2 separate regions of the Homo sapiens genome follow, and region 1 is linked to region 2. The links come from fine-mapping of genetic effects on gene expression. A gene starts in region 2. The other region holds a variant in brackets. All regions are shown on one strand. Distances are from middle to middle.

What was found.
Region 1: its variant is fine-mapped to the expression of OCEL1 in sun-exposed skin (GTEx, PIP 0.98).

What each region holds. Positions count from the first base shown.
Region 1 is chr19:17,240,963-17,251,625 of GRCh38, forward strand. NR2F6 (nuclear receptor subfamily 2 group F member 6) reads right to left here and starts at 4,957. Exons shown (of 4, transcript NM_005234.4): 1 at 3,981-4,957. The coding sequence starts at 4,258. It overlaps USHBP1 (USH1 protein network component harmonin binding protein 1), which reads right to left. Exons shown (of 13, transcript NM_031941.4): 12 at 10,620-10,663; 13 at 8,209-9,452. The coding sequence ends at 9,263. RefSeq lists silencers at 4,308-4,377, 4,388-4,547, 4,948-5,197, 5,598-5,677 and enhancers at 4,941-5,890, 6,840-7,789, 7,790-8,738. The variant G/A (reference allele first, on the strand shown) is at 6,362.
Region 2 is chr19:17,221,070-17,231,732 of GRCh38, forward strand. It overlaps OCEL1 (occludin/ELL domain containing 1), which reads left to right and starts at 5,157. Exons shown (of 6, transcript NM_024578.3): 1 at 5,157-5,247; 2 at 5,624-5,800; 3 at 5,925-6,130; 4 at 6,771-6,936; 5 at 7,187-7,240; 6 at 7,734-8,150. The coding sequence starts at 5,179. The coding sequence ends at 7,856. RefSeq lists silencers at 5,044-5,133, 5,364-5,483, 5,504-5,553 and enhancers at 5,077-5,751, 5,752-6,425.

The DNA of each region.
Region 1 (10,663 bases), 20 kb after region 2:
GGATGAAGAGGAATCTGTGGAAAAGCAGATGAACACCCCAGGGAGGGCACATTGGCATGGGTTTTGAAGGATGAATAGGAGTTCTCCAGGTGAATGGCGGGGTGATCCCAGAGAGAGGGTACAGCCAGAGCAAAAGGGTTGAAATACACAAATATGGAGGCCTAAAGAGTTTCATTTTATTTGGTCACTGTCAGGCTGAGCAGGGTCATTGTCCCCAAAAAGATGTGAAGGCAAAGAGGACATGGTCAGAGAGCTGGACTTTGTGAATTAACTAGGGGTCAGGCCAGGGGCTAGTGGTCTGTGGGGTCATAGCATTGTGGGGCCCCAGCATTATCACCCGCACAATGCCCACCCCAAGGAATGAGGAAGTAAACAAAGTCACTCTGGTCCTCAGCCCTGAAGGCCCCACACCTACGCTCTTCCGAGAGGACCACCCAACCCCTATGCAAGCTGGAGATTTTCCTGGTCAGCCCTCAGTGAATGCCGTTGCCTCTTGCAGGGATGAGACAGGTGGCCCCACCCTGAGAGGTGGTGAGCTCCCCATCCTGGGTCAGCCCCCAAGCAGGAAGGTCCAGGCCTTATTCTTCAAATGTCCCCAGAACCTTCTCCCCTTGGCCCCTGCCCTTGGACTCCCCTGGTCTCTTGCCACCAGGAGCTGGGGGCTCTCCAAGGCCTGGGCCTGGAGCAACTACCCCTGGGGTTCCAGCTGGACACCCAGGGGACACACAGAGACAGTCACAGAGTAGAACCACCACTTAAGGGAATTAAACAGATGCATCTCTGCAGTGGCTCACGCCTGTAATCCCAGCACTTTGGGAGGCGGGGGAGGGTGGATCACCTGAGGTCAGTTCAAGACCAGCCTGGCCAACATGGTGAAACCCCGTCTCTACTAAAAATACAAAAATGAGCTGGGCGTGGTGGCGCATGCCTGTAATCCCAGCTACTTGGCAGGCTGAGGAAGGAGAATCGCTTGAACTGGGGAGGTGGAGGTTGCAGTGAGCCAAGATTGACCCACTGCATTCCAGCCAGGGTGACAGAGTGAGACTCTGTCTCAAAAAAAAAGAAAAAAAAAAAGGCTGGGTGCAGTGGCTCATGCCTGTAATCCCAGCACTTTGGGAGGCCGAGGCGGGCGGATCACCTGAGGTTGGGAGTTTGAGACCAGCCTGAACAACATAGAGAAAACCTGTCTCTACTAAAAATACAAAATTAGCCGGGCATGGTGGCGCATGCCTGTAATCCCAGCTATTTGGGAGGCTGAGGCAGGAGAACCGCTTGAACCCGGGAGGCAGAGGTTGCAGTGAGTTGAGATCACGCCATCGCACTCCAGCCTGGGCAACAAGAGTGAAACTCCGTCTCAAAAACAAAACAAAACAAAACAAAACAGATGAATCTCAGCTGCAGATACCCAGCCCTGCCCCTCAGGTGGCGACTGCCCCACTGAGCCTCGGTTTCCTCATCTGAAAATGGGAGGTCAGATATTGCCCTATCATATGGGATGGACTGGGTCAGAGGGGTTCACGGGGGACAGTGCCAAGACCCAGAGCCCAGCCGGAGAACCCAACTTAGGAAAGCTGAGGATCTGCGCCCACTCCCCCGTACCCCCCCTCCACCACTGCCTGGGTCCTGCAGCACCAGCCACTGAGCCCCTGGGAAGAGGCCCCACTAGGGCAGAGGGAGCTCAGGCAGAACCAGAACAAAGCCCAGCGGCTGGGTGGTGGGAGGGTCCAGGGCAGCCGGGTGGAAACGGCCTGGCCTGGGGCGGCCCTGCAGGCAGGCAGAGGCCCAGCTCAGGGGCCCCTGACCTCAGGGGAGGCCCTGAACCTTCAGTCTCAACTTCCCCAGCTGTGGAATTGGGACAGATCCATCCCTCCAAGGAGGGAAACAGTTAAGTTCTTCCTGTTATCCCACCTAAAGAGTGCAAGCTTTTTTGCCCAACCCCATGGCCCAACTCAGCTTCCTCCCTGGGCTTCTGGCCTCCAGTCCAATTTGATCAGAGCCCTCTCCTGCTCACACACCCTCTATGGCTCCCCATTACCCTCAGCCAGCATTTCAGGCCCACCTAGCTCTGACTTCTCCCATGGCTGCACAGTCCCCCTCTTACAGCACAGCTCCCCCAGTCTGCCACTAAGTGTTTTGTCTGGACCACATTCTGGCATGTCCCTGTGGCCTTTCTTCCACCTGCCAACTCCATGCTTCAAGGCTCATGTCCCCTAGCCTCCTCCAGGCAGCCCTCTCTGACCTCCAGGCAGAGCCTCTGCTCTCTCCCTGGGACCCCAGATCCCACAGACTTGGGGCATCTGTCTCACTGTGTCTCCTCCAGACTGGGGGCTTCTCAGGAGCTAGACTTGGAGCTGGGGTCTCTCTGGAGGGGCTGGCATCAAACTACCCAGGCTGGGCCCCAGCGAGACCCTGCTCAATCCATTTGAAGCTCAGAATGGAATGGTGATTTCACCAGGTCACACAACTGACACAGCACAAACCTGTCAGCTCCAAGCAAGGCCCCCCCCACCCAAAATTGCTGCTCCCTGACACCACCCTCAGGAAGCTCCTGGGACCCCAAAACTGCCTGAGCCCCCCTCCCTTACCCTCCCTAAAGATATGACCAGAGAGCAGGCGGTTTTCCAGCAGCAAGAATGAGGCCAAAGTCTAGTGGCCCACTTTGTGCTGGAGGAGGGAGCAAGGCAGCTCTGCCACACATGGCCACACCAGGCCAGCCCTGACCCGGGACCTGGGGCCAAACTCCACCCTCGGGTACCTGGGGCCCTATTTGGTGGCCTCAGCCAACAAGCCTTCCATCAGCCGTTCTCCCTGGGGCCACTCCGATCCGAACTCAGCGGTCCCCACCCTAGCCCCACAGTTCCCCCACAGTGCCCCCAACTCGGGCAGCGTCCCTCCATGTCCAACGCAAAGCAGGCACCAGGACCTCTCTCTGGGCCTTTGGGCCTCTGTTTTGGGCAGCTGGGAACTGAGACCGTCTAGACGGGCTCCACAGAGACCCTGCATGTTCCTGGGGTGCAGAGTAGGGGCTTATAAACGGACAGATCGGATGCTCGCCCGGGAACGGTGAGAAAAGAACTCCCGGGCTGGACAACCCCGATCGCTTTCCCTGGGGACCTTCCGCCAGAACAGCTAGCAAGGCCACGCCCTGCCAGAGAGGTCTCCGACCTGGGACAGCCCAAGGCTCCTGCTCGGAAACGTTTCACTCCCTGCCCGTCTCAGAGACACCCAAAGTTTGAGGGATTTTTCCAGGAGCCCCAGGTCTGCACCCACCCCTGGGGGAGAGGGACGTTTCAGTCAATTCCGGTGGCCCTGCCGGCCTTCCAGTGGCGATTTCCGGTGACCCAAGGCCCAGAGTGAGCCCAGAGGGGTTCCCTGAGATGGGCAAGCCCAGCTCCCACCCCCACCCCCACCGCTGGGCCCCTCATGCGAAGAAGGCCGCCCCGTGCCACCCCAGCCTCCCTCCGTCTGCCGCCTCCGTAGCCACAGCGACTTTGGAAGTGATATTTGACCCCAAGGGCGCGCCGTATCGATCCGCGCGGCCGCAGACAATGGCCCCTGGACGCTGCGAGCTCCACGGTCCAAGTTCCACGTTCGATTCCCTCGAGGGCATCCCGCGCGCCGGGATCCCCGAGAACGGGTGCCCTGGGGTTGGGTTACCACCCCTGACAGCACCCCTACCCCCACCCCAGCGCGGAGATGACCCCTCCCCAGAGAAAAAGCGGAGGGAAGGAGAAGCAAGTAACTGGGGCAAAAGCCTCCAGGGACCACCTGATGGGGGGGGAACCTGCAACGATGTAGCGCCGACTGTATACACAATCCCAGCCATGGAATGCGGGAGGAGGGTGCTGTGCCCCTATCTCAGAGGGGGCAGTGGAGGCCCAGGGAAGGTCAGCGCCAGGCCCAAGGTGACCGAGCAGGTCAGAGGCCTGCCCCAGGTCGGGGCGGGGTGCACGGCGGCGGCGCGCGGATGGGGGGCTCACCGGCAGGTGTAGCTGAGGTTGCGGCGGATGCTTCGCTTGAAAAAGCTCTTGCAGCCCTCGCAGGTGAAGACACCGTAATGCTTGCCGCTCGACTTGTCCCCGCACACCACGCAGTCCACCTGCAGCCCCGGCCGCTCCTCGTCGCCCGGCTCGGCGTCGCTGGCGGCACCGGGGGGCGAGGCCGAGTCGTCCTCGGCCGCGCGCGGGTAGCCGCCCGCCTTGTCCACGCCGTTCGTGTCGCCGCCGGGGCCGCCCCAGCCGCCGGTCACCATGGCCATAGCCCCAGGGCAGCGGGGCCGGGGCGCCCCCACCGCGCTCTTCCCTCCGGGCACCCCTCTCGGCCCGGGGGACCCTACGCGGCGCGCATTCGGCCCCGGCGCGCGGGGGGCACGGGCTGCACCCCCCAAAAAAGTTTTGCAGCAACTTCCTGCGGCCGGTCCTCGCGCCCGGGCGGAACTGGTCGGGCCGGTTCCAGGCCAACTTTCCCACGCGTGCGCGGGGCCGGGCCCGGGGCCGGGAGGGGCACGCTAGAGGCGCGGGCCGGGGGCCCAGAGGACTCGCGTCCCGCCGCCCTGGGGCCCCGGCGGGGGCGCGCGGGCCATGGCCCGGCCCGAGCCGCGCAGGGGGCGTCCTCTGGCCTGGCCGCCGCTCGCCCGGGGGCTGCGGCCAACTCAGCGGGCCGCCATCCGAGCGCGGGAGGCCGGGGGGAAAGTTTGGCCGCAAGTTGCGCGGCCGCCCGTGGCGGGGGGGGAGGGGCGGCGGGTGCGCGCCGGGGCTGATCGCCGCGCCCCCTGGGTCCCCCGGCGCCCGCGGCTGCCGCTCCGGGCCTGCAGGGCCGCTGGGCCGGCGCCTCTGGAGCTGCCGCCCCCGCTGCGGCCGCTCCTGCCTGGCCTGGGCCTGCGCCTGGGCCCAAGCCTCGCTCTCGCCGCCGCCACCGCCACCGACCCCGCGCGCCGGCCTCGCGCTGCGGCCGGTTTGACACACAGCGTTCCATTCGCGGGGCGGGCGGGGGGCGGGGGCGGGGGCAGGGGCGCGCGCCGCGGGCTGGGGGCGGGCGCTCGTTGCCCCGGCGACGGCCGCCCTTATAAGGGCATGGGTGGCCGCGCGCGGCGCCGGGCGAACGGGCCGGCGGGAGGGACGGGGGCCGAGCGCTGGGCCGCGGGGCCTGACCCTCCCCCGCCTCCCTCTGCCCCTCCCCCCGCACCCCCGCCCTCGCCCTCGCCCAGCTCGGGCCTTAACCCCTGCCGGGCCGCGGCGGGAGCCTCAGCCGCGCCTGCCCTCTGCCCTTCCTTGAGCCTCGCCAAGATGTCTCTCCAAGGCCCTCCCCTCCACCTCTGGCCTTGGACGTTGGGTCGCTCGATCACCCTCGAGGCGCCCCTCGGAACCTCTCCCCACCCCACAGTTCCTGGCAAAGCAATGATGGGGGGCCAGTGGCACCCGGGGGGGGGGTACGCCCCTGCGCAAGACACACGCGCGCGCGAGACAGACAGACACACACACACACACACACACACACACACACACACACACCCTAGATTGTGTTTGCTTCCTCTTCCAGAAAGTCGCCGCGTCTGACCCCCACCCCACCCTTTCTCTGCTCGGGTTAACACCTGGTGCCCGGAATCTCCAGGGGGAAGGGATGTTGTGGTCTGAGACCGGCTGGCCGGGGCCGCGAGGTCAGGGGGCCCCTCTGCAGAATTTCTGGCCTCCGGGGGCAGGGCGCCCACCCGCCCCGCGCGGCTGGAGGCGACAGGCATGCCCTGTCTGGGGGCCTGCCCCTTTTTCCCTTTTAATTTCCTTTTCTTTCTGTGCTTTGCAGAAAGGGCTTGGCCTGGCGGCCGGCTGGACTGCAGATGTCTCTTCCAGGCGCCCTGGAGCCTCGCAGCTGCCGCCACCTCCAACTCACCCCATCCCCCAGTACCGGGGCTGGGGCCCGCCCGACCAGCATTTATTAAGCACCCTTTGTATGCGAGGCCCGGGCTGGCGAGCCTCTGGCTCTGGGCAGGTTAACCTTTAACCGGCTGGACAAGCCCTTCCAGGAGTGACCTTTCACCTCGGAGTCTTGCAGCCCCAGCCACCCAGACTGTGGTCCCACCCCGCCCTGAGCCCAGAGCTGGACACCAGAGCATGCAGCTGGGCCTCTGAGAGCTCTGGCCAGGACAGTGCCTTCTGCGCACCCCCTCCTCTGCCTCCCAGAGCCCTGATGAGACTTGAAGAATTGCCCTCCCTGGAGTAGGGGGAAAGATTCTTAGAGATCTTACAACACTTAAAAAGAAACTGAGGTTCTGGGAGAGCCAGGCACACCCAGCCCTGGGCCTCTCAACCTGCTCCAGGGACGTTCTGGCTGCCTGGGAGGTGGAGGAGGAGGCGTTAGTAAACAC[G/A]AAAAGCAGGAAGGACTAGGATTAGACATGAGCAAGGACTTCCCGAGGTCTAGAGTCGGGTTCTGCCCACAGCCTGATGTAATCCCTGCTGGGAGAGAGGAAGGCGTGGGTGGGCAGAGACGACCCTTTGGTTCTGAGGCTGCATGGGAATGTGACTGGTAATTTGGGATGAGGGCAGGGATCCTAGGCCCCTTGCCTGGACCTGCTAGGATCTTTGGTGGGGAGCATTGGGGTGGAGGTCTCAGAAGGGATTGAAAAGAGATTTAGATGAGAGACAGGCGCTGTGGCTCACGCCTGTAATCCCAACACTTTGGGAGGCCAAGTCAGGAGGATCTCTTGAGACCAGGAGTTCAAGACCAGCCGGGGCAATAAAGTGAGACCCGTCTTGAGCCCAGGTGTTCAAGGCTGCAGTGGGTTATAATCACGTCACGTCACTCCACTCCAGCGTGAGCAAGACCCTGTCTCAAAAAAAAAAAAAAAAAGAAGAGGGAGAGAAGACTCAAGGAATCTTGAGGGGATTGTGAAGGGGAGGGAGCAAAGAACTAGGTTTGGGGGAGACAAGTCTTGCGAGGCAGCTGAGAGCTGGGTGGGAGATGGGGGAAGAAAGACCATCGCAGATCCCAGAAACTCCAGTAGTTCCAGTCCCAAAGGCTGCCCCACCCCCTTCCAGTAGCCTGGCCACCCCTGTGCCCCCTGGGGCCCGCCTGGGGGTGGATCAAGGCTCTACCCCGCCTCCCTGACCCCTGCCCGCGGCCCTGCAGTAACATTTGACCTTGCGGCGGCCGCAAACCAGGGACAAAGGGGCCTAGGCCCATCTGCTGAGGGGGCACCCGTGGGAATGGCCAGATCCTGCTGGGGCAGCCTGGGAACCTGTCTCCGTCCTCCCACATGTGACCTTGGCTCCCTTTGCCCCTCCACAGGCAACCTGGTGGGACCAGGAACTCAGGTCTTAGACTCTGGGGCTCGGCAGGGTACAGGGAAGAAATTCAGCTTCTCTGCCCCACCCCAACACGAGCAAGGTGGTCTGCCTCCATTTCCCTGCTTTCTTCAAAGTTGGCCCAAGTCCAGGGACAGCGTGTGGGTCGGAAGGTGACTAGCCCCAGCCCTCGCTGGAGGGGACTGTGCTCGCCACCATACTTCTTGTTCTGTTTCTGGGGTCAGGTTGACTGGATTCAAGTCCAGGCCGCTGACTGGCGCTGACCTCAGGCTGACGTGGTCCTGCCCTGGGAGAGGCGGTGAACACACCTGCACAGGTGAGGCCTGGAGCACCTGCCCCCAAGGCTGGGAATGAAAGTCTTTCTAATCCCTGTCTCGGGTTTCAGCTGCCACCCTGAAGGGGGACAGCTGGCCACTAATCCAAGCTTGGCTGGGTCGTTCCAAGCTCCCCTTTCCCAGACTCAGCCAGTCCTGGTGTGGAGGGGCAGGGAGATGTGACTTATGCAAATGACATGCTAATTCATTGCCTGCTATTAACCTGACACGTCCCACAGCTCCTGGGCCCCCAGGAGAAAGCTGGAACTGGCCACCATTGGCATTCATTCTGAGTTTCTCTTGAAGTACAACGCCCCCTGAGTCCCAGACTATTACCTTTGCTATGCCTGTCCCCCACCCAGAAACCCTTTACCTTATTTTATTTATTTATTTTTGAGACAGACTCTCCTATTTTGCCTAGGCTGGTCTTAAACCCCTGGGCTCAAGCAGTCCTCCTCCCTCGGCCTCCTGAGATACTGGGATTACAGGCAAGCTCGACCACATGGAGTCCAGAAACCCTTGACCTTAGCTTTGAGTTAGTAGCAACTCGTCATCCACACCCTGAATCTGAACCATTCCAGCTTCAGTCTCCCTCCTTTTTGTTTTGTTTTGTGTTTTATTTATTTATTTAGAGACAGAGTTTTGCTCTTATTGCCCGGGCACGATCTTGTTGTTGGCGCGATCTCGGTTCACTGCAACCCCCGCCTCTCAGGTTCAAGCAATTATCCTGCCTCAGTCTCCCGAGTAGCCGGGATTACAGGCATGTGCCACAACACCCAGCCAATTTTTGTATTTTTAGTAGAGACGGGGGTTTCACCATGTTGGCCAAGCTGGTCTCAAGCTCCTGACCTCAGGTGATCCTCCCCGCCTCAGCCTCCCAAAGTGCTGGGATTACAGGCATGAGTCACCACGCCTGGCCTGTTTTTTTTTTTGAGACAAGGTCTTACTCTGTGACCCAGACTGGAGTGCAGTGGCGTGATCTCAGCTCACTGCAACCTCCACTTCCCAAGCTCAAGTTACCCTCCCACTTTAGCCTCCTAAATATCTTTATAGGCACATGCCACCACGCCTGGCTAATTTTTGTATTTTTTTGTAGAAATGGGGTTTTGCCATGTTGCCCAGGCTGGTCTTGAACTCCTGGGCTCAAGTGATCTACCCACCTTGGCCTCCCAAAATGCTGGGATTACAGATGTGCACCACTGAGCCCGGCCCCCTTCAGGAAAATCTGCCAGCCAAACCCAGCATCTCCCTGGGAAGGGGCTGCCAGGAGAAGCTCTGTCCAGTCCCCATGAATCCCTCCCTGGGCTTCGGGAGACAGGCCAGTTGGAACTTCAGCTGTGGCTATGCAACCTCACGGACCCCCGAAATGCGTCAGTCCCAGGGACCTGGTCCCATAGCCCAGGTTGCTTCTGGCCTGACCCCACTGATATGAAGTTCACATTCCACTTGGTGCCAGGCCAAAGACACCTGAGTCTTTCTTCATTGCCTGGCCACACCCCATCAGGCCCTGGACACCCATGTGCACCAGCTTCCCTCACGCCAAATGTGCCCCAACATGCCAAATCATGCAACATGACATGATGTCACTCCAGGACAGTTTATGACATGCCACAGCTGTCTGGCATGTCCAGACATGGCTGGGTAAGGGGCCTACAGAAAGGTGTCCCCAAGCTGGGGAGGCGGGAGGGGAGGCCTGGGCTTCCCCAGGGCCCTTGCAGTGGCTTCGAGCACCGCCACCTCCTCGGCCTGCTGAGCCTCCATGAGTGCCATCTGCTGCTCCAACTTCCGGCGTTGCTCTTCCTGCTTCCGGTGGGCTCCTCGGAAGGCCAGGACCAGGGCGCTGGAAGGGGTGGGTGGCTGGGTCAGGAAACAGCCCCCGAGTCCACCCAAGGCAAGGGCCGTGTACTCCCACTCCCAGAATGGGGGCTCTTTCACATTGGGTCTCCAAGGGTCCCAGCTAGCTGGTCTTTTGTTGTTGTTGTTGTTGTTGTTTGAGACAGAATTTCGCGCTTGTCACCCAGGCTGGAGTGCAATGGTAAGATCTCCCCTCACTACAACCTCTGCCTCGAGGGTTCAAGTGATTCTCCTGCCTTAGCCTCCCAAGTAGCTGGGATTACAGGCGCCCACCACCACGCCCAGCTAATTTTTTTGTATTTTTTAATAGAGACAGGGTTTGACCATGTTGCCCAGACTGGTCTTGAACTCCTGACCTCAGGTGATCCGCCTGCCTCAGCCTCCCAAAGTGCTGGGATTACAGGCGTGAGCCACCATGCCCAGCCTGTTTTTTCTTGTTGTTGTTTTTTGAGATGGGGTTTCGCTCTTGTTGCCCAGGCTGGAGTGCAATGGCACAATCTCGGCTCACTGCAACCTCTGCCTCCCGGGTTCAAGCGATTCTCCTGCCTCAGCCTACCGAGTAGCTGGGATCACAGGCATGCGCCACCACGCCTGGCTAATTTTGTATTTTTAGTAGAGATGGGGTTTCTCCATGTTGGTCAGGCTGGTCTCGAACTCCCGACCTCAGGTGATCTGCCCACCTTGGCCTCCCAAAGTGCTGGGATTTCAGGCGTGAGCCACTGCGCCTGGCCCAGCCTGTTGTTTTTTTTTTTTTTTTTTTAGACAGAGTCTTGCTCTGTCACCCAAGCTGGAGTGCAGTGGTGTGATCTCTGCTCACCACAACCTCCACCTCCTGGGTTTAAGCAATTCTCCTGTCTCTCAAGTAGCTGGAATTACAGGCACGTGCAAAGACGCCTAGCTAATTTTTGTATTTTTAGTAGAGATGGGGTTTCACCACGTTGGCCAGGCTGGTCTCAAACTCCTGACCTCAAGTGATCTGCTGGCCTCAGCCTCCCAACATGCTGGGATTACAGGTGTGAGCCACCACACCTGACCGTTACTGCCTATCTTGGGGCAGTGGGGAATGCTAAGGCCCAGAGACAGCCAGGGATACTTCTGATATCCTGGTGGGGGATGGTGCCAGGGGGATTGGGGGGATGCAGAACAGTCCTACCTGTGGGCTTTGCATAAATCCCTGTTCAGCTCGGCACTCTGAGA
Region 2 (10,663 bases):
GCCTTGGCCTCACAAAGTGCTGGGATTACAGGCATGAGCCACTGTGCTCAGCCCAAGTAGAGATTTTTAAAAGTGCTACTGGCAGCTTTTAAAAAGTAGAACATAGAGCCAGGCGTGGTGGCTCATGCCTGTAATCCCAGCACTTTGGGAGGCTGAGGCGGGCGGATCACCTGAGGTCAGGAGTTCGAGACCAGCCTGGCCAACATGGTGAAAACCCATGTCTACTAAAAGTACAAAAAATTAGCTGGGCATGGTGGTGGGCACCTGTAATACCAGCTACTTGGGAGGCTGAGGCAGGAGAATTGCTTGAACCCAGGAGGCGGAGGTTGCAGTGAGCCGAGATCACGCCACTGCACTACAGCCTGGGCGACAAGAGCGAGACTCCATCTCAAAAAAAAAAAAAAAAAAAAAAAAAAGATCATAAGAAGGAGACAGCCAGGCATGGTGACTCACGCCTGTAATCCTAGCTACTGGGGAGTCTGAGGCAGGAGGACCCCTTGAGCCCAGGGACTGGAGGCTACGGTGAGCAGTGATCATGCTACTGCACTCCAGCCTGGGTGACAGAGTAAGACCCCTACTCAAAAAAAAAAAAAAAAAAAAAAGGAAGTTTATGCCTGAGACACAGGGATGATTCCTTATTAGAAAGCCACGTTGGCCAGGGCACCGTGGCTCACACCTTGTAATGCCAGCACTGTGGGAGGCTGAGGTGGGAGGACCACTTGAGCTCAGGAGTTTAAGGCCAGTCTGGGCAACATGGTAAAACCCTGTCTCTACAAAAAATACTACCAGCTACTTGGGAGGCTGAGACAGGAGAATGGCTTGAGCCCAGGAGTTCGAGGATGCAGTGAGCTGTGATCACACCACTACACTCCTGCCTGGGTGACAGAGCCAGACCCTGTCTCAAACAACAACAAAAGCCAGCTACATTAATGCCTCAGAAAACAAAATCACAGATGCTGAAATGACAAATTGTACTGTTTAGCCTCCGTTACCCAAAGTCTCCTAATTTAAAAAGAAAGGAAATAGATGGACATGTTCCTCACTTCACTGAAAAATCTCAAGCCAAAGGGAGCATTGACTTTAATGGGCAAATACTCAAAACTTCTGCCATCAAAATGAGGAATAGGCCAGGTGCGGTGGCTAAAGCCACCTGTAACCCCAGCACTTTGGGAGGCCAAGATAGGCAGATCACTTGAGCTCAGGAGTTCGACACCGGCCTGACCAATATGGTGAAACCTGGTCTCTACAAAAATACAAAAATTAGCCAGGCATGGTGGCACGCACCTGTAATCCCAGCTACTCAGAAGGCTGAGGCAGGAGAATCACTTGAACTCAGGAGGCAGAAGTTGCAGTGAGCCAAGATCGCACCACTACACTCCACCCTGGGTAACAGAATGAGACTCCATCTGAAAAAACAAAAACAAAAAAACGGGGGGAATGGAATGGGGAAGGATGCTTACAGTCGCCCTGCCTCCATAATGTAACATAGTCTTGAGGTGGTAGTCAGCACAACTAGACGAAAAAAAGAGGCTGGGTGCGGTGGCTCACGCCTGTAATCCCAGCACTTTGGGAGGCCGAGGCGGGTGGATCTAGAGGTCAGGAGGTCGAGACCATCCTGGCTAACACGGTGAAACCCCGTCTCTACTAAAAATACAAAAAAAAAATTAGCCGGGCATGGTAGCGGGCACCTGTAGTCCCAGCTACTCGGGAGGCTGAGGCAGGAGAACGGCGTGAACCCAGGAGGCAGAGCTTGCAGTGAGCCAAGATAGCGCCACTGCAGTCCAGCCTGGGCAAAAGAGCGAGACTTCGTCTCAAAAAAAAAAAAAAAGAAAAAAAAAGAAAAAAAGAAATGGGGCCAAATATGGTGGTGCACGCCTGTGGTCCCAGATACTTCAAAGGCTGAGGCAGGAGGATTGCTTGAGGCCAGAAGATAGAGACTAGCCTGGGCAACAATAGCAAGACCCTGTCAATAGAATAAATAAAATGCCAGGCATGGTGGCTCATGTCTTTAGTCTCAACTACTTGGGAGGCTGAAGCAGGAGGACTGCTTGAGCCTAGGAGTTTAAGACCTGACTGGGCAACATAGCGAGACCCCATCTCTACCAATAAAAATTTAAAAATTATCCAGGTGTAGGCCACCTGGTTGGCTCACCAGGCCACACTGGCCAAGATGGTAGAACCCTGTCTCTACTAAAAATACAAAAATTAGCCAGGCATGGTGGCGGGCACCTGTAATCCCAGCTACTCAAGAGGCTGAGCCAGGAGAATTGCTTGGCCCAGGAGGCGGAGGTAGCAGTGAACCGAGATCACACCACTGCACTCCAGCCTGGGAGACAGAGCAAGACTCCGTCTAAAAAAAAAAAATTATCCAGGTGTGGTGGTGCGTGCCTATAGTACCAATTATTCAGGAGGCTGAGGCAAATGATCACTTGAGCCCAGGAGCCCAAGTGATCATGCTGCACTGAGCTATGATCGTGCCACTGCACTCCAGACTGTGCAACACGGTGAGACCCCATCTCTAAAACAAACAACAAGAAAAAAAGAAATGAGATTGAAAAATAAGAGAAGAAAAATAAGAAATGAGAAGGCAAAATTATTTGCAGATGATATGACCGTATATATGATAGGCCCAAGCGATGTGACTAAAAATATTTCAATAAAAGAATTCCTTAAGCTAGCAAGAGACTTATAGATATTTAAAAATTCATTTCTTGTATACTATATATGTATATAGCTTTAAAATGTATTAAAGCATCCCATTTATAGCAGCAATAAAAAAAGATACACTGCCTGCTTAAACGAATTTTGTTGACATTTGAAGAACTTTTTTTGGAGTCGCCCAGGCTGGAGTGGTACAGCAGCACAATCGTGGCTCACTGCAACCTCCGCCTCCCGGTTTCAAGTGATCTCCTGCCTCAGCCTCCTGAGTAGCTGGGATTACAGGTGTGTGCTACCATGCCTGGCTAATTTTTGTATTTTTAGTAGAGACGGGGTTTCACCATGCTGGCCAGGCTGGTCTTGAACTCCTGACCTCAAGTGGTCCACCCACCTCGGCCTCCCAGAGTGCTGGGATTACAGGCATAAGCCACCTTGCCCGGCTGACATTTGAAGAACTTCTAAAAATCAACAAGAAAAAACATTTGCAGGATATAACAGGAAAAGAATTACGAAATAGAGAAATAGTCTCTAAATTTTTTCACTCATACACTAGGCAATATTTCCTTTTTTTTGAGACAGTCTCTCAACTGTCATCCAGGCTGGAGTGCACTGGCGCAATCTTGGCTCACTGCAACCTCTGCCTCCCGGGTTCAAGCGATTCTCCTGCCTCAGCCTCCCAAGTAGCTGGGATTACAGGCGCCCGCCGTCACACCTGGCTAATTTTTTATATTTTTAGTAGAGACGGGGTTTCACTATGTTGGCCAGGCTGGTCTCGAACTCCTGACCTTGTGATCCGCCCGCCTCGGCCTCTCAAAGTGTTAGGATTACAGGCGTGAGCCACCGCGCCTAGCCTTAGTAGGCAATATTTTCAACTTTGAAAGTACAGGTGAGGGGCCAGCGCTGTGGCTCACGCCTGTAATCCCAGCACGCTGGGAGGCCGAGGCAGGCGGATCACGAGGTCAGGAGATCGAGACCATCCTGGCTAACACGGTGAAACCTCGTCTCTACTAAAAAATAGAAAAAATTAGCCGGGCGTGGTGGTGGGCGCCTGTAGTCCCAGCTACTCAGGAGGCTGAGGCAGGAGAATGGTTTGAACCCTGGAGGCGGAGCTTGCAGTGAGCCGAGATCGCGCCACTGTACTCCAGCCTAGGAGACAGAGCGAGACTCCGTCTCAAAAAAAAAAAAAAAAGAAAAGAAAGTACAGGTGAGGGAATCCGTTATCATGCCAGTGCCGCCAAGGTTGTGGGAAAACCCCTGTATCTCTTGGAGCATAAATGGTACAATCTCACTAAGGAGTAACTTGGCAGTATGTTCCAAATGTAAAATACACACATCCCAGACAGGAGGCTGAGGCAGGAGGATCGCTTGAGTCCAGGAGTTGGAAAACAGCCTGGACCCATAAGGACATTTCCTCTCAAAAAAAAAAAAAAAAAAAAAAAAAAAAAATGCCAAGCACGATTATGGGATCACACCTGTAATCCCAGCACTGTGGGAGGCTGAGGCGGGTGGATTGCTGGAACTCGGGAGTTCAAGACCAGCCTGAGCAACGCGGCGAGATCCCGTCTCTACAAAAAACACAAAAATTAGGGAGGCGTTGTGTCACCTGTGGTTCCAGCTATTTGGGAGGCTGAGGTGGAAGGATCAATTGAGGCTAGGAAGGAGGTCGAGGCCACAGTGAGCCATGATCATGCCCTCCAGCCTGGGCAACACAGCCTCTCTCTCTCTCTCTCTCTATATATATATATATAAAAGGCCGATTTGGGGCACACTGTCTATAAGTTAGCTCTGCTCTGCCAGGAACAGTACTGTTCAGTAAAGATGCCATCTAACACCACCTGCTCGCCCTTAAAAGAAATAAAAGAAAAAGAAAGAAAGGGGCGGGTGCGGTGGCTCACGCCTGTAACCCAGCACTTTGGGAGGCCGAGGCAAGCGGATTGCTTGAGTCCCGGAAGCTGTTCAAGACCAGCCTGGCTAAAATGACGAAACTCCGGGCGGGCGCGGTGGCTCACACCTGTAATCCCAGCACTTTGGGAGGCCGAGGCGGACGGATCACTTGACGTCAGAAGTTTGAGACCAGCCTGGCCAATGTGGCGAAACCCCGTCTCTACTAAAAATACAAACAACAACAACAGCAAAAAATTAGCTGGGCGTGGAAGTGTGCGCATGTAGTCCCAGCTACTCGGGAGCCGGAGGCAGGAGAACCGCTTGAACCCGGGAGGCGGAGGCTGCAGTGAGCCGAGATCACGCCACTGCATTCCAGCCTGGGCAAGTGAGACTCTTGTTAAAAAATTTTTTTCATATAATTGCTGAAAAAAATAAATAAGTTTAAATTTGCAAAACCATCCCGTTTTTTCAGACAAACTTGAGGGTCGAGGTCGGAGTCGACCATGTTTCGAAGGTGTGTGGCCACGCCCAGCCAGGTCAGCCCCGCCCCCAGGCCGTCAGGCCCAGCCCCCTTTCGTCAGACCCCGCCCCCAGCCCTGCTGAGCGACCCCGCCAGTCGGGTCCATCCTGCAGTAAATGCACAACCCGGACGGAAGTGCCTCTCCGACAGCAGATCCAGGCTCGGAGCTCCAGACGCTGGGACAGGTGACCCGGGGCGGTAGCGAGCCGGACGGCCTTGCAGGTGGGGCGGAGGTCCCGAGGAGCTCCTCGGGCGCGGTCGTCTGTGGGCTCTGCGCGCCCTGGAGGTCGAGGCTCCGGCAGCGCGGGGGTTAACTCGAGCCGGTCCCAGGCTGCGCGGCGACGTCAGAGTTCATTTACATAGCGCTTATTTGGGTTGCGCAGTCGTGGGCGGGGTCTGGACGTCGCTGCGGACCAATCGCGTGCGTCTATGCAAATAGCGGTCGTTCTGGGGAACTCTGCTCCCGCGGGGTGAGAGTTGGCCGCTCTTCGGCCGAGCTGCCCGCGCGTCCTTTCTCCGTGCGCGTCGTCAGGCGTGTCCTCTCCGCGTGTCCACCCACAGGCCGCCCGCAGACCACCCCCGCCGCGCGCGGGACACGACGCCCCCCGCAGGACCCGCCCATCAGCCCGGAAACCCCTGAGCTGCTTCTCCCGGAGGCCGATGCCCACCCGGGAGCCCCCAAAGACTCGCGGCTCCCGGGGGCACCTGCATACTCACCCGCCTGGGCCTGGGCCCCCGGTGAGCCTGACCGGGAGGGGGTCCCCAGGCCGGGCCTCTAGGCAAAAGATTTAGCCCCTCCAGTTTGAGGGACTCCGGTTTCCCGACACCCCGATTTAACTCCAGACCACGATTCCTGTGGCAGCTGCAGGGACTGGCGCCCCGAGGCCTCAAAACCAGCGCCCCCCGCCCTCCGTGCCAGCCCCAGCCGGGACCCCACAAGGCAAAGACCAAGAAGATTGTGTTTGAGGATGAGTTGCTCTCCCAGGCCCTCCTGGGCGCCAAGAAGCCTATTGGAGCCATCCCTAAGGGGCATAAGCCTAGGCCCCACCCAGTGCCCGACTATGAGCTGTGAGTGTCCCCCATGTGATTCTTCATGCCTGGGATCAGGAGAGGGGCACTGAGGCTGGGGCTTTGATAGTTGAATAAGAGTTTACCAAAGAGTAGAAAGGAAAGGATCCCTTGCTGATCAGTAGTGGGATTGTCCCTGTGAATAAGCCACTGCACTCCAGCCTGGGCAACACAGTGAGATCCCGTCTCCGAAAATAAATAAATAAATAGGCGAGGCGCGGTGGCTCATGCCTGTAATCCCAGCACTTTGGGAGGCTGAGGCAGGCGGATCACCTGAGGTCAGGAGTTCGAGACCAGCCCGGCCAACATTGTGAAACCCCGTCTCTACTAAAAACACAAAAATTAGCTGGATATAGTGGCGCATGCCTGTAATCCCAGCTACTGAAGAGGCTGAGGTGGGAGAATTGCTTGAACCCGGGAGGTGGAGGTTGCAGTGAGCTGAGATCGCTACACTGCACTCCAGCCTGGACAACAGAGCAAGACTCTATCTCAAAAAATAATAATAAATAAATTAAAAGAGGGAGAGAAAAGGAACGTTTCTAGTAGGGGCCCAGCATGGACAAAGAAAAGCAAATTACACTGACTGGGGGAAAGAGTGGGGTTCTTTACACTCACACTCTGACCCTCTTCAACCTGGTAGTAAGTACCCGCCAGTGAGCAGTGAGAGGGAACGGAGCCGCTATGTCGCAGTGTTCCAGGACCAGTACGGAGAGTTCTTGGAGCTCCAGCACGAGGTGGGGTGTGCACAGGCAAAGCTCAGGCAGCTGGAGGCCCTGCTGAGCTCCCTGCCCCCACCCCAAAGCCAGGTCAGCACTAGGGAGAAAGCCCTGCCCCGCAGCCCTTCTGAGTGGCCCGACCCAAGCCTCTGGGACACCCACTGGGTCCAGATTTCCAGGACTCTTTCTCCTCTCGGTTGGCTGGGCGCCGTGACACATGGCTAAGGTCAGCCCTTGAAGTCCCCACTAGATGGGCATTTAGTCTGTCTGAGCCTCAGTTTCTTCATCCCTTCTTGAATTCAACTCTCCCTAAACCCCCTTTCTACTCCTCCCCTTGCAGAAGGAGGCCCAAGTTGCAGCCCGGGTTTGGAGGGAGTTTGAGATGAAGCGAATGGTGAGTCTTGCATCCCACAGCTTGGTCTTGCACCCCTGAGACTTCTGTGAGGCTGGGGTGCCTGTGCCCAGTTTCTTTTTTTTTTCTTTCTTTTGAGACAGAATCTCGCTCTGTCACCCAGGCGGGAGTGCAGTGGTATGATCTCAGCTCACTGCAACCTCAGCGTCCCGGGTTCAAGCGGTTCTCCTGCCTCAGCTGGGATCACAGGCGCCCACCACCGTGCCTGGCAAATTTTTGTATTTGTAGTAGAGATGGGGTTTCACCATGTTGGCCAGGCTGGTCTCGAACTCCTGACCTCAAGTGATCCGCCCACCTCGGCCTCCCAGACTGCTGGGATTACAGGCATGAGCCACCTTGCCCGGCTCACCCGGTCGCCTGTGCCCAGTTTCAAGGAGAGAAAATTGAGGCTCGGAGAATGAAAGGCAGAGAGTTAAGCAGCTTGAAGGCCACAGGGCAGACTGCTGCAAAGACTTCCGGGTCTCGCCCTGCCTAGGATCCTGGCTTCCTGGACAAGCAGGCTCGCTGCCACTACCTGAAGGGTAAACTGAGGCATCTCAAGACTCAGATCCAGAAATTCGATGACCAAGGAGACAGCGAGGGCTCCGTGTACTTCTAAGTGCCCCTGCAGATGGGCAGAGGGATGCATGGGGATGCAGGTCCCTTGCATTTCTTGGTATCTCTCAGCTTTTCCTCTTGCAGCTCCCCCTACCAGGGGTCGCTTTCTCCTGGATTGCAAATGCCTCTTCAGTTTGGACTCAGCTCTGACAGCCCCTCCTCCAGGAAGGCCTTCCAGGACTTCCTCCTCTGGGTCCTCTAGCTCTGACCCTACAGGGACTCCAGATCTCAACCTGTTCCCTGGAAGTAGGGCCTGCTCTCCATCCCAGTGAAATAAACATGTATTAGACACCTACTGAGTATAATTACTTAACACTTCTGATTTCACTCAGTTGTCACACACACAAAAAGTTGTTTTTTGTTTTTGTTTTTGTTTGAGACTGTGTCTCACTCTGTCGCCCAGGCTGGAGTGCAGTGGCACGATCTTGGCTCACTGCAACCTCCGCCTCCCCGGTTCAAGTGATTCTCCTGCCTCAGCCTCCCAAGTAGCTGGGATTACAGACACCTGCCACCATGCCCAACTAATTTTCATATTTTTAGTAGAGACGGGGTTTCACCATGTTGGCCAGGCTGGACTGGAACTCCTGACCTCAAGTGATCCGCCCACCTCAGCCTCCAAAAGTGCTGGGGTTACAGGCATGAGCCACCACGTCCAGCTGGATTCTTCACTCTCTGTGTCTCCCTGGGCACTTCAGGACAGCAACTGACCCCAGTGTGTGGGCACGGTCCATATGCATGGCCTAGGGGGAGGCTCTTCCAGTGTCTGACCCATCCCAGGCCCTAGCTGTGATGGGTGGGGCACAGGTGGGGCCAGTCTCCCTGTGGGAGCCATGTAACAGCAGACCAGAAGCTGTCCTCTGAGTTTCAGTCTCCCAAGGGAGCCACAGGGGCAAGAAGCAACCAGGAAGACCAACTACATGCAGGGGAGACAGCGTCAACCACTGGGCCACCACGATTGTCCTCAAGAAGGCCCTAGTCTGGGGAAGATAGCCCTGAGTCCAGTAAAAGAAGGCTGCACAGCAGAGTCTTAATAGCCAGGGAGGCTCAAGATCTCTTCCCGCAGGAAGGGCCATGTGGGTAGGGTTTTGTAGGAAAAGTAGGAGTTCAGCAGTCAGGCCTTGGACAGACATCCAGATCTCTGGCCTGGGGCCAAACAGCAGGACAGACACCATGGTCTCACTCAACCCTCAGATGTCCTGTGCATTGGATAAATGAGACCTTGCTGTCCAGTTTGACTGGAGTAGACATGGACCCACTCACTCACAGGACACCATGGAGAGACCCTGACCTAATGCAAAACCCAGTGCAGCCTTCAACGAGAACCTGGTGTCCTCTCCATCCCGCCCCTGCCTCAGTTCCCTTCTGGGAACGTGCCCACAAGAAACCCTCACTGACTCCACAGGAGGGGCCTAATCTCTCGTCTTCCAAGGCTTTCTTCAAGATGGACATGGGGAGACTAGGGAGCATTTTGGCAAACTGGGGCTGCTTAAGAGCTGAGCACTGGCCCAGCAGGCAGCGTGACAGACTTGACTTCTTCCCTTGCTGTTTTCAGGAGGGCATCTTTCTTTTTTTTTTTTTTTTCAGACAGTCTTCCTCTGTTGCCCAGAGTGGAGTGTAGTGGTGCGATCTCAGCTCACTGCAACCTCCGCCTTCCAGGTTCAAGTGATTCTCGTGCCTGAGTCTCCCGAGTAGCTGGGATTACAGGCTCCTGCCACCACGCCTGGCTACAGAAGGACATCAGTGAGAGGTGCCACCCCCACCACCATTCGGGCCCTTTCTCTCTGCCCTACAGCTCTGGTGCTGAATTCCACAGGTGCCTTTCCCACCACAGAGCTGTGCCACACACTCCCGAGGCTGGGACGGGAGAGTCCCTGGTACCCCACATGATTCCGTATCAACCCAGTGAAGCCCACATTTCAAAGTCTTGGCCTTGTAGGTGCCTGACTCCCAAACGTCAATCTCTGAAACAGATTTTTAGTTCCATGTGAGAAAAAAAACTGAAGTCAGATTGACTCAGGCACAAAAGGGGGGAGACTGAGTTCACAGAACTTAAAACACCCAAGGGTTTCAGGTATGGCTTGATCTGGGGCTCCAAAGGCATCTTGGGAAATTGATCTTCCATCCTTGGCTCTGCTTTAATTAGATTCTCCCAGTTCCAAATCCCACCGTGCAATCTCACTGGCTAGTTTGGCATCCCAGGGCCTCCATAAACCAGTTGCTGTGGCCCAGGGAATGGTGGTCTCTGATTGGCTCGCCTTACATCATGTGACAGGACTGGCCCCAGAGGTTTCTCCCAAGGACATTGGAGCCCAAACAAGATTAAGGGCCCGGCAGCTCATGCCTATAATCACACCACTTTGGGAGGCCAAGGCAGGTGGATCACCTGTCAGGAGTTCGAGACCAGCCTGGCCAACATGGCAAAACCCCTCTAGTTAAGGTACAAAAATCAGCTGAACGTGGTGGTGCGCACCTGTAATCCCAACTACTCAGGAGGCTGAGGCAGGAGAATTGCTCCAACTCGGGAGGCAGAGGTTGCACTGAGCCAAGATTGCACCACTGCACTCCAGCCCAGGTGAAACAGCGAAACTCCATCTCAAAAAAAAAAAAAAAAAAAAAAAAAAAGATTAAGGTTGACCAAAAGAAAGTAAGTGAGGCTAGGCACAGTGGCTCACGCTTGTAATCCACTTTTGGAGGCCTCAGGTGCATCACCTGAGGTCAGGAGTTCGAGACCAACCTGGTCAACATGGTGAAACCCCATCTCTACCAAAAATAAAATTAGCTGGGCATCGTGGTGGGTGCCTGTAGTTC